2 linked regions of the Homo sapiens genome follow. The protein of the gene in region 2 interacts with the protein of the main gene of each other region in a pairwise test. Each region holds a gene or a part of one and is shown on either strand. Other genes may lie near its edges.

Region 1 (7,044 bases), on a different chromosome or scaffold from region 2:
TGTGACAAGTACCTATACCTCCATTTGGTGGAATAGAAGCTAAGGTTTGGAGATTGTTTTTTTTTTTTTTTGAGATGGAATTCCTCTTTTGTTGCCCAGGCTGGAGTGCAGTGGTGTGGTCTTGGCTCACTGCAACCTCCGCCTCCCAGTTTCAAGCAATTCTCCTGCCTCAGCCTCCCGAGTAGCTGGATTACAGGCATGCGCCACCATGCCTGGCTAATTTTTGTATTTTTAGTTGAGACGGGATTTCACCATGTTGGCCAGGCTGGTCTTGAACTCCTGACCTCAGGTGATCCACCTGCCTCGGCCTCCCAGAGTGCTGGGATTACAGGCGTGAGTGACTGCACCAGGCCGGTTTGGAGATTTTAATAGCTTCATGTCATGCAGCATGAGTCAGAGGCAAGAGCTCAGACCAGGTACCCAAAAACAGGAATGCCAAATCTCGTGCCCTGAGTAATTCTGTGTCGTAGTAATAGATTGCTGTGGATTCATGAGTAATTTGGGGTTATTTTACTTCCTTGGCACCAAATTACACACTCAAAATTGACATTGTTGATCCTATCCAATGTTCTTCTTTTTCAAGAAAAAAAAAAAAGTGGGCTGGGCACGGTGGCTCACACTTGTAATCCCAGCACTTTGGGAGGCTGAGGCAGGAGGATCACTTGAAGGCCAGGAGTTCGAGACCAGCCTGGCCAACATGGTGAAACCCCATCTCTACTAAAAATACAAAAAATGTAGCTGGGCATGGTGGCGGGCGCCTGTAAGCCCAGCTACTTGGGAGGCTGAGGCAGGAGAATCGCTTGAACCCAGGAGGCAGAGGTTGCAGTAAGCCGAGAGCACGCCATTGCACTCCAGCCTGGGCAACAAGAGTGAAACTCCGTCTCAAAAAAAAAAAAAAAAAAAAAAAAGAAGTGGGGGCTGGGGGAATGTTAATAAACATTTACTTCTGCCATGTGAGGTAGGAATGGATGATGAAGTGTTCAAGGCTCCCTACTGGATGTCCACTTAATTTGTATCTTTAGAAGTTGACTTAGTGCTTTTCTGAGGTCATCCAGTAACTTTCCCATTTAATGCAAAATAACAAGCTAGTCACTGTCTTGAGGAGACACGTTGTTTATCTTTAGTAGTTATTTTGCAGCTAGGTGGGGTAAATTTGCCCAGAACTCCTACAGGATATGAATCATTTGCATTCATAGACTGACCTGTTCTCACTTTGTTCTTTCTGAAAAGAGTTTTAATACAGCCTGTATTATATAACATAGGGGATACATTGTCATTTATATTTTCAGCATCATTCTCAAGTCAATTTGCAGACTCTATGATAAACCTGAGAACTTGAGTTGCTATGATTAACATCTCATGTACATTCAAATAAACAAGCAAACTGTAGAATAAATCCCAGAAAATGTTATTAGCTTTTTGTACACGTTATTTGAGGTCTTTGAATATTGCGGGAGAGTATTGGAATAGAGGACAGAGTGCAGATGGCAACACGGAAACCTGCAATTACTGATGTTTTTAAAAATGTGTGTCATAGACCAAGCTTGGTGGCTCACGCCTGTAATCCCAATGCTTTGGGAGGCTAAGGCGGGAGGGTTGCTTGAAGACAGAAGTTCCAGACCAGCCTGGGCAACATAGCAAGACCAACCCTGTCTCTACAAAAAAAAAATAAAAAGAAAAAAGAAAAAGTTAGCTGGGCATGGTGGTATGCACTGGTACTTGGAGGCCTGAGGTGGGATCACTTGAGCCCAGGAGTTTCAGGTTGCAATGAGCTATCATCACACCACTGTCCAGAAGCTGGGCAACAGAGTGGGACCTTGTCTTCAAAAAAAAAAAAAAAAAAAAAATTGTGTGATTAACTTTCATAACTTTCCATTTATTTATTTATTATTTTTTTTAGACAGAATCTCACTCTGTCACCCAGGCTGGAGTGCAGTGGCGCAAACGTGGCTCACTGGAGCCTCAACCTCCCAGCCTCAAGCAGTCCTCCCACCTCAGCCTCCCAAGTAGCTGTGACTGCAGGCCTGTGTCACCATACCTGGCTGATTTTTTTTTTTTTTTGAGATGGAGTCTCACACTGTCACCCAGGCTGGAGTGACACCCATGGTGGCGCAATCTCTGCTCACTGCAACCTCCACCTCCCGGGTTCAAGCGATTCTCCTCCCTCAGCCTCCTGAGTAGCTGGGATTACAGGCGCCCGCCACCATGCCCAGCTAATTTTTTGTATTTTTAGTAGAGACAGCGTTTCACCATGTTGGCCAGGCTGGTCTCGAACTCCTGACCTTGTGACTTGCCTGCCTCAGTGTCCCAAAGTGCTGGGATTACAGGTGTGAGCCACCACGCCAGGCTGTTTTTTTTTTTTTTTTTTTTTTTTTTTTTTAAGAGAAAAGGTCTTGCTGTGTTGCCCAGGCTGGTCTAAAAATGCTGGCCTCAAGCGATCTTCCTGCCTCAGCCTCCCAAAGTGCTGAGATTACAGGCATGAGCCATCTCACCTGGCTAAAATGTTATTTTATACAAGTATTATATTTCTTGTTAGAGTAATCTGAGCGCTTAATTGACATATTTGGAATTAATCAGAAAGGCTAATAGTTATATAAATATATTGGATTGTTTGTGTGAGACTAATTCTTGGTAAATGAACATGAACTACAAGAAATGGTCGACATTAGTGCTGATAAATTCTGAATCTTTACATGAAGAATATGTGTCACAGCTGAGTGCAGTGGCTCACACCTGTAATCCCAACACTTTGAGAAGCCAAGACAGGCAAATCACCAGAGGTCAGGAGTTGAAGACCAGTCTTGCCAACATGGTGAAGCCCTGTCTCTACTAAAAAAAAAAAAAAAAAAAAGCCGGGCGTGGTGGCGGGCGCCTGTAATCCCAGCTACTCGGGAGGCTGAGGCAGGAGAATCACTTGAATTTGGGAGAAGATTGCAGTGAGCCGAGATCACGCCACTGCGCTCCATCCTGGGCGATATAGTGAGACTCTGTCTCAAAAAAAAAAAAAGAATATGTGTCAGAAGAGAGAAAGGGAGGTATGGCCTTAATGCTATTTTAATTTATAAGATAGAGGCCTGGTATTCTTGGATTCTGGAGCCTATCAAGACATTTCAAGGTATAGGTTTGAATTGAAAAAGTATGGAAAGATAAGATGAGCTTTCAAGAGGGATGCTGATCATAAGTCTTTAGGGTTTATTGTCTCTGTGACTATGGTCAGACCAGCTTCACTGTGGAACTGGAACTTAAGAATGAAAAAGGCAGCATGCTTTCCAACTGCCTGACTGCTTGTTGGCCTCACCGGTGGGAGCTCCAGCATCTCCTTTGCTCGAAATGGACCCCAACTGCTCCTGTGCCACTGGTGGCTCCTGCATGTGCGCCGGCTCCTGCAAGTGCAAAGAGTGCAAATGCACCTCCTGCAAGAAGAGCTGCTGCTCCTGCTGCCCCGTGGGCTGTGCCAAGTGTGCCCAGGGCTGCATCTGCAAAGGGGCGTTGGAGAAGTGCAACTGCTATGCCTGACGTGGGGACAGCTCTGCTCCCAGATGTAAATAGAGTAACCTGCACAAACCTGGATTTTTTAAAAAATACAACACTGAGCCATTTGCTTCATTTCTTTTTATATTAAATATGTTAATGACAATAAAACAATTTTTACTTGAAGAAAAAAAATGAAAAAGGCTGAGTGCAGTGGCTCACGCCTGTAATCCCAGCACTTTGGGAGGCCGAGGAGGGCGGATCATAAGGTCAAGAGATCGAGACCATCCTGGCCAACATGGTGAAACCCTATCTCTACAAAAATACAAAAATTAGCTGCGCATGGTGATGCATGCCTATAGTCCCAGCTACTAAGGAGGCTGAGGCAGGAGAATCGCTTGAACCCGGGAGGCGGAGGTTGCAGTGAGCCGAGTCGCGCCACTGCACTCCAGCCTGGCGACAGAGCGAGACTCCATCTCAAAAAAAAAAAAAAAAGAATGAAAAGGTAGCATGGTGGCTCATGCCTGTAATTCCAGCACTTTGGGAGGCTGAGGCAGGCTGATTGATTGAGCCCGGAAGTTTGCGACCAGCCTGGGCAATGGGGCGAAACCCCATCTCTATGCAAATTACAAAAATTAGCCAAGTGTGGTGGTGCGCACCTGTAGTCCCAGCTACTCTAGAGGCTGAGGCAAGAGGATTGCTTGAGCCTGGTATGCGGAGGTTGCAGTGAGCCACTGCATTCCACCCTGGGTGACAGTGAGACCCCATCTCAAAAAAAAAAAAGAAGGAATTAAAAAATAAACTTTAGTTTTTGCCATAGCTCTTTATTTCACTAATGTCCTCTTCCTTCGTATAAACAAATACTAATCTCTCTAAATATAGCAAACTATCAAAAGGAAATAGTTTTGTACCCTGTTATTTATGAAACTTATTATGACAAACTACTCCTAAAGCAGCTTCAGCTATGATTGAATAAATGCTGGAAATCCAGGATAAATAAGATACTCCACCTCCACTTTTTAAAGTAAATAAATGATTTGTGTTTTTGGAATCTCAAGAAATTTATAGCCAGGCATGGTGGCTCACGCCTGTAATCCCAGCACTTTGGGAGGCCGAGGCGGGTGGATCACCTGAGGTCAGGAGTTTGAGACCAGCCTGGCCAACATGGTGAAACCCCATCTCTACTAAAAATACAAAAAAAATTAGCCAGGCGTGGTGGCTTGCACCTGTAATCCCAGCTACTAGGGAGTCTGTGGCAGGAGAATTGCTTGAACCTGGGAGGTGGAGGTTGTAGTAAGCCGAGATTACACCACTGCACTCCACAATCCAGCCTGGGTGACAGAGCAAGACTGTCTCAAAAAAAAAAAGTTTACTTTCTCACATGGGATATATTTTACAGTTGGTCAAATGTGCTTGTGTGTGTATATGTGTGTATGTGTATTCTTTTCTCTGTATCATATGTGATAGTGGGGTAGTGCCAAACATTGTTAACTCTGATGAATAATGTCTCTTTTGGTTAGATCATTCTTACCTTACTGGTATCTCTTACTGTTTCCTTACCTAGTTATGCTGTTATTGCCTATGGCTGTGCCAGCTGCCCGAAGCTAACTTGTGAGAGGGAAGGTTGCCAGACTGAGTTCTGCTACCACTGCAAGCAGATATGGCATCCAAATCAGACATGCGATATGGCCCGTCAACAGAGGGCCCAGACTTTACGAGTTCGGACCAAACACACTTCAGGTCTCAGTTATGGGCAAGAATCTGGACCAGGTATAAGTTGGCATTATCTCATTGTCTCTTTATTTGGTATTTCATGATGTGAGCCCATAGCTGAAAGAAATTATCTTATTGTATAACCCAAGTACTCCAAAGGATCAGAGAGCAGAAAATATCATTTGATAATACTTTCAATATTATAATAAAGATAGCACTTCCCTCTCTGACCATTATAGGTTATCCAACTATATAAAATTGAAATGCAACAAAATTGAATTATGTAGTTCCTACTTTCTTAGTAATATGTCTCAGATTGGAGAGCAATTAGTTCATTTTGTTTTGCTAGGGGCTTTTTCAAAACTTTCATTGTGAACAGAAAGACATTTAATTAGTATTAAACCTGTGCTGTTTGCCTTCAAGCTGACTTAAGTGCCTCACTGCCTTTGGAAGTAGAGTACAGATTGAAGAAAAGGAAACAGTATTAGTATAGATTAATGATTAACCTTAAAAGGAGGAATGTCACACATTCAGCTCCAACCTTGGCGAGTCAGAGGAAACCTATTTTAAAATGTCAGTGGATTTATTGCTTTGTACTTTTATTTTGCTGATGTCATTTGGGAGAGGCTAGTAGGAAAGATTTTGCCATTCACTTTTTCCTGGCACAGCATAATTTCCTAAATTGTCATTTTATTAGGATAGTTCATAACTTGCTCTGAAAATTACCAAGTATATGGTAGATAGCATACCCAGTTGTTTTTAGGTTTTGAATTTGAAAGTATCATGGGAAGGGATTGTGGGCTATGTTAACAGCAAATCACAATGATACATGTTGAACCTGAAAAATAAATTTCCCAAACTAAAGTTTTTAAAAATGTAAAGCTAATTCCAGGCTGCAGGCTATTCTTTCTGTAGGATTCTTCTTTTAAATCTACCAGCCTATCGACTGGTAGAAATTTCATTTTTCTTGGAAACATCTTTCTCCCTAAGGAAATCTCCTTGCTAGAATGTGGTTCAAGTGCTGTGTAAGATGCCAGTTGTTGGGATAGGCAGCTCAATAAGAGACAGGATTCATTTTATGAAAATTCCTGAGGTCTAGACATAGCCAACCTTCCAGTAAAGTGGGTTGTACAATTTGGAGTGTTCAGTGAAGAGTTCTTGACTGCTGCCTCATTTCTTATATATACTCCTAGGAACAATTAAATCAAACTGGATTTAACTAGGGGTATTTTTTCTACCCATTCTTCCCCCACTCATAGCAGATGACATCAAGCCATGCCCACGATGCAGTGCATACATTATCAAGATGAATGATGGAAGCTGTAATCACATGACCTGTGCAGTGTGTGGCTGTGAATTCTGTTGGCTTTGTATGAAAGAGATCTCAGACTTGCATTACCTCAGGTAAGATGGGAAATGCATCCATTCCTTTCGTAGTCTCATTCTCTTACTGATTTAGGGAAAAGGATGTCAAAAAGACACATCCGTTCTCTCATTACAGGTTTAAGGAAGCTGTGAAAACTTCTTCTGACATGCTCCTCTAATCATGTTTTCACCAGCTACTATTCTGTTTCTACCTTTCTTTGCTTGCCATATTACAGGTAGTCTGGACTTGCTTTTTCCCTTTTGCTGTCTTGCCTCCATACTTGTTCATGTTCTTTCCTTTGCCTAGAATGCTTTCTGCCTACCTTCCAGTATCCTCCTTTTATCTCAACTTGTTCAGTTCTTATCTTTTAAGAGCCACTTAAATGCCTTTCATCCATGTTGCCTCTCCTTTTTCCGCCTCATTCTTTGACTTTCTTTTATCTTTTGTCATAAATATCGTCAGTACTTTACACTTCACGTACCTATCTTATCTTA
Region 2 (4,925 bases):
TTTTAAAAATGAGGAGGCTAGCCAGGTCCTTTGGCACATGCCTGTACTCCCAGCTACTTGGGAGGCTGGGGTGGGAGGATCTCTTGAGGTCAGAAGTTATAGCTGTAGTGAGCTATGATTGCACCTGTGACTAGCCACTGCACTCCAGCCTAGGTAACATAGGGAGACCCTGTCTTTTAAAAAACAAACCAACAAATGAGGAAACCGAGTTGAAAGATCTGTGTTATATGTTTGAGTCAGAGAGGTAGGTAGTGGTGGAGCCTAAATTGGAACCTCAGACCTGGGCTTTTTAGTTACATAAAATCCAAACCAACTGTCAGCCTTCCTAGATCTCATTCCCTGCTTAATAAATACACAAACCCACTAATTCTTATATTGATAGTAGGCATAATCACTACTAGAGCTACATGGTGGTTAACTCTAGAGGTTAACAGAAATGGATAAATTAAGTGGGACATTTCCAGGAATGCTAAACTGCTTCTGGATTAAGAAATTGTATCTTGTGTTCCTTGTGGCTCGTTATGCCCTTGAATCCCTGTAACAGTAAAGGTTTCTTGTTCTGCACATGCTGACTTACCTGTCCTACAGTCTCTTACAGTACATCAATCAGAGGAAGAAGTTCAGAAGGCGCTGGGTGGGAGCTCTTGCCTCTGTAACTATCCCCAGTGAGTATTTTTGTATTATTGATAGGAAACTGAAGGACTATAGGGTTAAAGTAATCGCAACTCCTTTATACAATTAGGGTTACCAGATTTAGCAAATAAAAATATAAGATACCCAGTTAAATTTGAATTTTAGATAAACAACAAATGCTTTTTTAGTATTTAAGTATATGTTGTACAATATTTGGGACCTACTTACACCAAAAAAAAATCATTTTTCACCTGAAATTCAAATTTTCTGGGTATCCTTTATTTTACTGGCAACTGTACTCATGACATCTGGAACAGTGATGTGTGTGTGTAGAGTGAAGTATATAAAAAGCTGAGACATTACTGTAAAGGTAGTTGGTATTACTGATTTCTGTGGTGTGCATTGTCAGTGACTGCCACATTACATGCTGAATTGCTCGGACAGAAGGCTGTTTGGATTACTAATCAAGAGGCTATAGGTGGTTTGTGCTTATTTGTCTTTTCATTCTTACAGATTTAAAAAAAAATTATGGTGTTTCACACATAGTGATTAGTGCTCAGGAAATTATTGGTTGATTTCAAATGTCAAGGGTCTGTTATAACTGAAGAGAGACTTAAAGAATGATAGTATCCTGGACTTAGAGGATGTTGAAAGTTGGGCATATCCCATTTGGTCCAGGGTGCAGGAGAGCTGGATGAGGGACCAAATGGTTGTCTGTAGGAGGAGATGTGTCCAATGAATGAACTGGTACGTGCCTAGCAGTTTTTTAGAGGTTACCTAATAAAACAAGCTAGGTTTTGTATCACACAAAAAATTATTTATAGAAAATATTTTCTTGGGCTGGGTGAGGATGCTCACGTCTGTAATCCTAGCTTTTTGGGAGGCTGAGGTGGGAGGACTGGTTGAGCCCAGGAGTTTGGCACCACTCTGGGCAACATAGTGAGAAAAATTTTTCTCTACAGATAATTTAAAAGTTAGCCAAGTGTGGTGTTGCACACCTGTATGTAGTCTCAGCTACTGAGGACACTGAGGTGGGAGGATCGCTTGGGCCAACGAGTTTGAGGTTACAGTGAGCTATGACTGCACCACTGCACTCCAGCCTGAGCAAGGGAGAGAGAGACCTTGCCTATTATAATAAAAAAAGGAAGAAGAAAACATTTCTTTTCGGAGAGGAGTTAATTTTAGGGTGGGAGTAGAACAGATGTGAGAGCTGTTAAGTATTTCATTCCTTTTCTCTTTTCTAGTTCATTTTATCTATGGGCCATTGGATCCTGTAAATCCCTATCCAGAGTTTTTGGAGCTGTACAGGTGAGTCTCCCCGAGAGAAGTCTATGTTTTGTTAGTATCTCATCCTGACAGTGGTAAACAGAATTGCCTGTTGAGGGCTATTGGCTCTAGCCATTGTCTTTAACCTCGCTGGCTGTTCATCCAGGAAACAATAAAAAGATTGAGTTGAGGAATCTTATTCTAACATAATTGTAGTATCAAGACATTCAGTTATACGTTCTCTTGATTTATACATAGTCTGTTTTCACTGTCATGACTGCTACATATTCCTTGGTGTACAAAAAGCTCTCATGTGAGTCAAAGGTTGAAAGTGGATATACCTACAAAGTGTTTGTTTGTTTTAGTCTGATTGTAAAGCCAATTCATTGGTTTAGGCTGAGCAGATGGCAAGGAGAGATTGAGAAGAGCTCATTGTGGAAAAGTGCCTTCTCATTGGTTGCTATTCTCTCTAGGTACTTACTTGGAAGGTATCAGAATATGAAATCTTGATTATGTCACATAAGAATGTTCCATACCTTCCTGTGGCCTACTGGATACAAGCTAGTAGTAAACAGCTTGCATATAATTTTAAATAAAATACCCCCTCTCTCATCTCCTCCTGGGATTAAGGGAAGATCCTTGGTTATCTCTGCTTGGGCAGTGAGTTGCTGTGTGATCCACTTGTTTGATGCTTCATCCTTCTCTAAGGAGCTGAAAGTCATCTTGCTTTGACAATTGTTGCAAAAGTGTTATATTTTCAAGTTGTTGTTTGTTGGATTATGAACATTTAAAAACTAGTTTGTATAAATGGAATTGGCAAGTTTATCTGCCTAAGATACAATTTCAGAGTAGAAGGTGAATAAGCTCTTTGGTGGCTCCTTCCAGTGTGGTGTGTCCACAGGGTCATTTACTGGGGCTTCCCACTGGCTTACATCCCTCCCGCTCCAGCCTCAAGTTCACCTGCGTGCTGTTCTCTTCCACTAGGAAAACGCTGCCGCGGTCCACAGTGTCGATTCTGGATGACCACATTAGCCACTATCCACAGCTAGAGGATCCCATGGGCTTCTTGAATGCATATATGGGCTTCATCAACTCCTTCTGAGCTGGAAAGAGTAGCTTCCCTGTATTACCTCCCCTACTCCCTTATGTGTTGTGTATTCCACTTAGGAAGAAATGCCCAAAAGAGGTCCTGGCCATCAAACATAATTCTCTCACAAAGTCCACTTTACTCAAATTGGTGAACAGTGTATAGGAAGAAGCCAGCAGGAGCTCTGACTAAGGTTGACATAATAGTCCACCTCCCATTACTTTGATATCTGATCAAATGTATAGACTTGGCTTTGTTTTTTGTGCTATTAGGAAATTCTGATGAGCATTACTATTCACTGATGCAGAAAGACGTTCTTTTGCATAAAAGACTTTTTTTTAACACTTTGGACTTCTCTGAAATATTTAGAAGTGCTAATTTCTGGCCCACCCCCAACAGGAATTCTATAGTAAGGAGGAGGAGAAGGGGGGCTCCTTCCCTCTCCTCGAATGACGTTATGGGCACATGCCTTTTAAAAGTTCTTTAAGCAACACAGAGCTGAGTCCTCTTTGTCATACCTTTGGATTTAGTGTTTCATCAGCTGTTTTTAGTTATAAACATTTTGTTAAAATAGATATTGGTTTAAATGATACAGTATTTTAGGTATGATTTAAGACTATGATTTACCTATACATTATATATATTTTATAAAGATACTAAACCAGCATACCCTTACTCTGCCAGAGTAGTGAAGCTAATTAAACACATTTGGTTTCTGAATAAATTGAACTAAATCCAAACTATTTCCTAAAATCACAGGACATTAAGGACCAATAGCATCTGTGCCAGAGATGTACTGTTATTAGCTGGGAAGACCAATTCTAACAGCAAATAACAGTCTGAGACTCCTCATACCTCAGTGGTTAGAAGCATGTCTCTCTTGAGCTACAGTAGAGGGGAAGGGATTGTTGTGTAGTCAAGTCACCATGCTGAATGTACACTGATTCCTTTATGATGACTGCTTAACTCCCCACTGCCTGTCCCAGAGAGGCTTTCCAATGTAGCTCAGTAATTCCTGTTACTTTACAGACAGGAAAGTTCCAGAAACTTTAAGAACAAACTCTGAAAGACCTATGAGCAAATGGTGCTGAATACTTTTTTTTTAAAGCCACATTTCATTGTCTTAGTCAAAGCAGGATTATTAAGTGATTATTTAAAATTCGTTTTTTTAAATTAGCAACTTCAAGTATAACAACTTTGAAACTGGAATAAGTGTTTATTTTCTATTAATAAAAATGAATTGTGACAAAAGTGGACTCTGGCTTCCCCTCCCCCCTCCCCCCCACCCCTCTGGGATAAAAATTTTCCAGCATTGCCAGGAGCTTTCAGGTACACATTAAAGAATAAAATGAAGTTAAGCAGCTGGAGTATAGGATAGTATTTGATTTTCAAGATCACCCAAAGCTGCACTATCGTCCCAAAGCTGACCAAGTAGAATAAAAAGAAAAAAAAAAAAAAACAACCCATGCGCAAAGATAGACATTTGCTTGATCTGCTGGCTCAGGGCCAAATGTTTAATTTGCTTCTCCAAAGTCATTCATCTTCAAAAGTCTGATTCTGGGAAACTGATGCCACTAGCCTAAAAGCCCACTGACCATGTAGTGTGCATCAGTTTCCTCTTGTCCAGTAAGCATTTATCCAACAGAAGCTAAGATAACATCTACAGGTGTTCTCTCTTTACTTCTGACAGTCACCTGCATGGTCACTCCATCGGCTAAGGCCAGCCTGGACCTCACCAATAAATCATAGCCACCTCTGAATATACCTGAGAGAAAAAAGTAAGGAAAACCATATTAAGAACCCAAAACAAGCACTGGATAATGAAATTTATCATGCTATCCCTGCATCTCCTTTCTATTAGTTTAGTTTAGCTTTTCCAGAGACTTGTGGAAACTGAATCCTAAACAAACATAAATTCCAAATATATATATTTTTATAT

What was found. The genes of interacting proteins can lie anywhere in the genome.
Region 1: the proteins of MEST (region 2) and RNF19B interact in binary tests that used the Homo sapiens proteins (3 or more experiments, as listed by UniProt).

Annotation. Positions count from the first base shown.
Region 1 is NC_000001.11:32,947,766-32,954,809, reverse strand, and holds part of RNF19B (E3 ubiquitin-protein ligase RNF19B), read left to right. Parts: intron 1-3,000; exon of another isoform or gene 3,001-3,330; coding exon of another isoform or gene 3,331-3,516; exon of another isoform or gene 3,517-3,602; intron 3,603-5,035; coding exon 5,036-5,241; intron 5,242-6,443; coding exon of another isoform or gene 6,444-6,446; coding exon 6,447-6,588; intron 6,589-7,044. Other genes in the region: metallothionein-1E-like, read left to right, coding at 3,331-3,516.
Region 2 is NC_000007.14:130,502,056-130,506,980, forward strand, and holds the end of MEST (mesoderm-specific transcript homolog protein), read left to right. Parts: intron 1-588; coding exon 589-665; intron 666-1,877; coding exon 1,878-1,941; intron 1,942-2,883; coding exon 2,884-3,001; 3' UTR 3,002-4,410; downstream 4,411-4,925. Other genes in the region: COPG2 (coatomer subunit gamma-2), read right to left, coding at 4,621-4,751.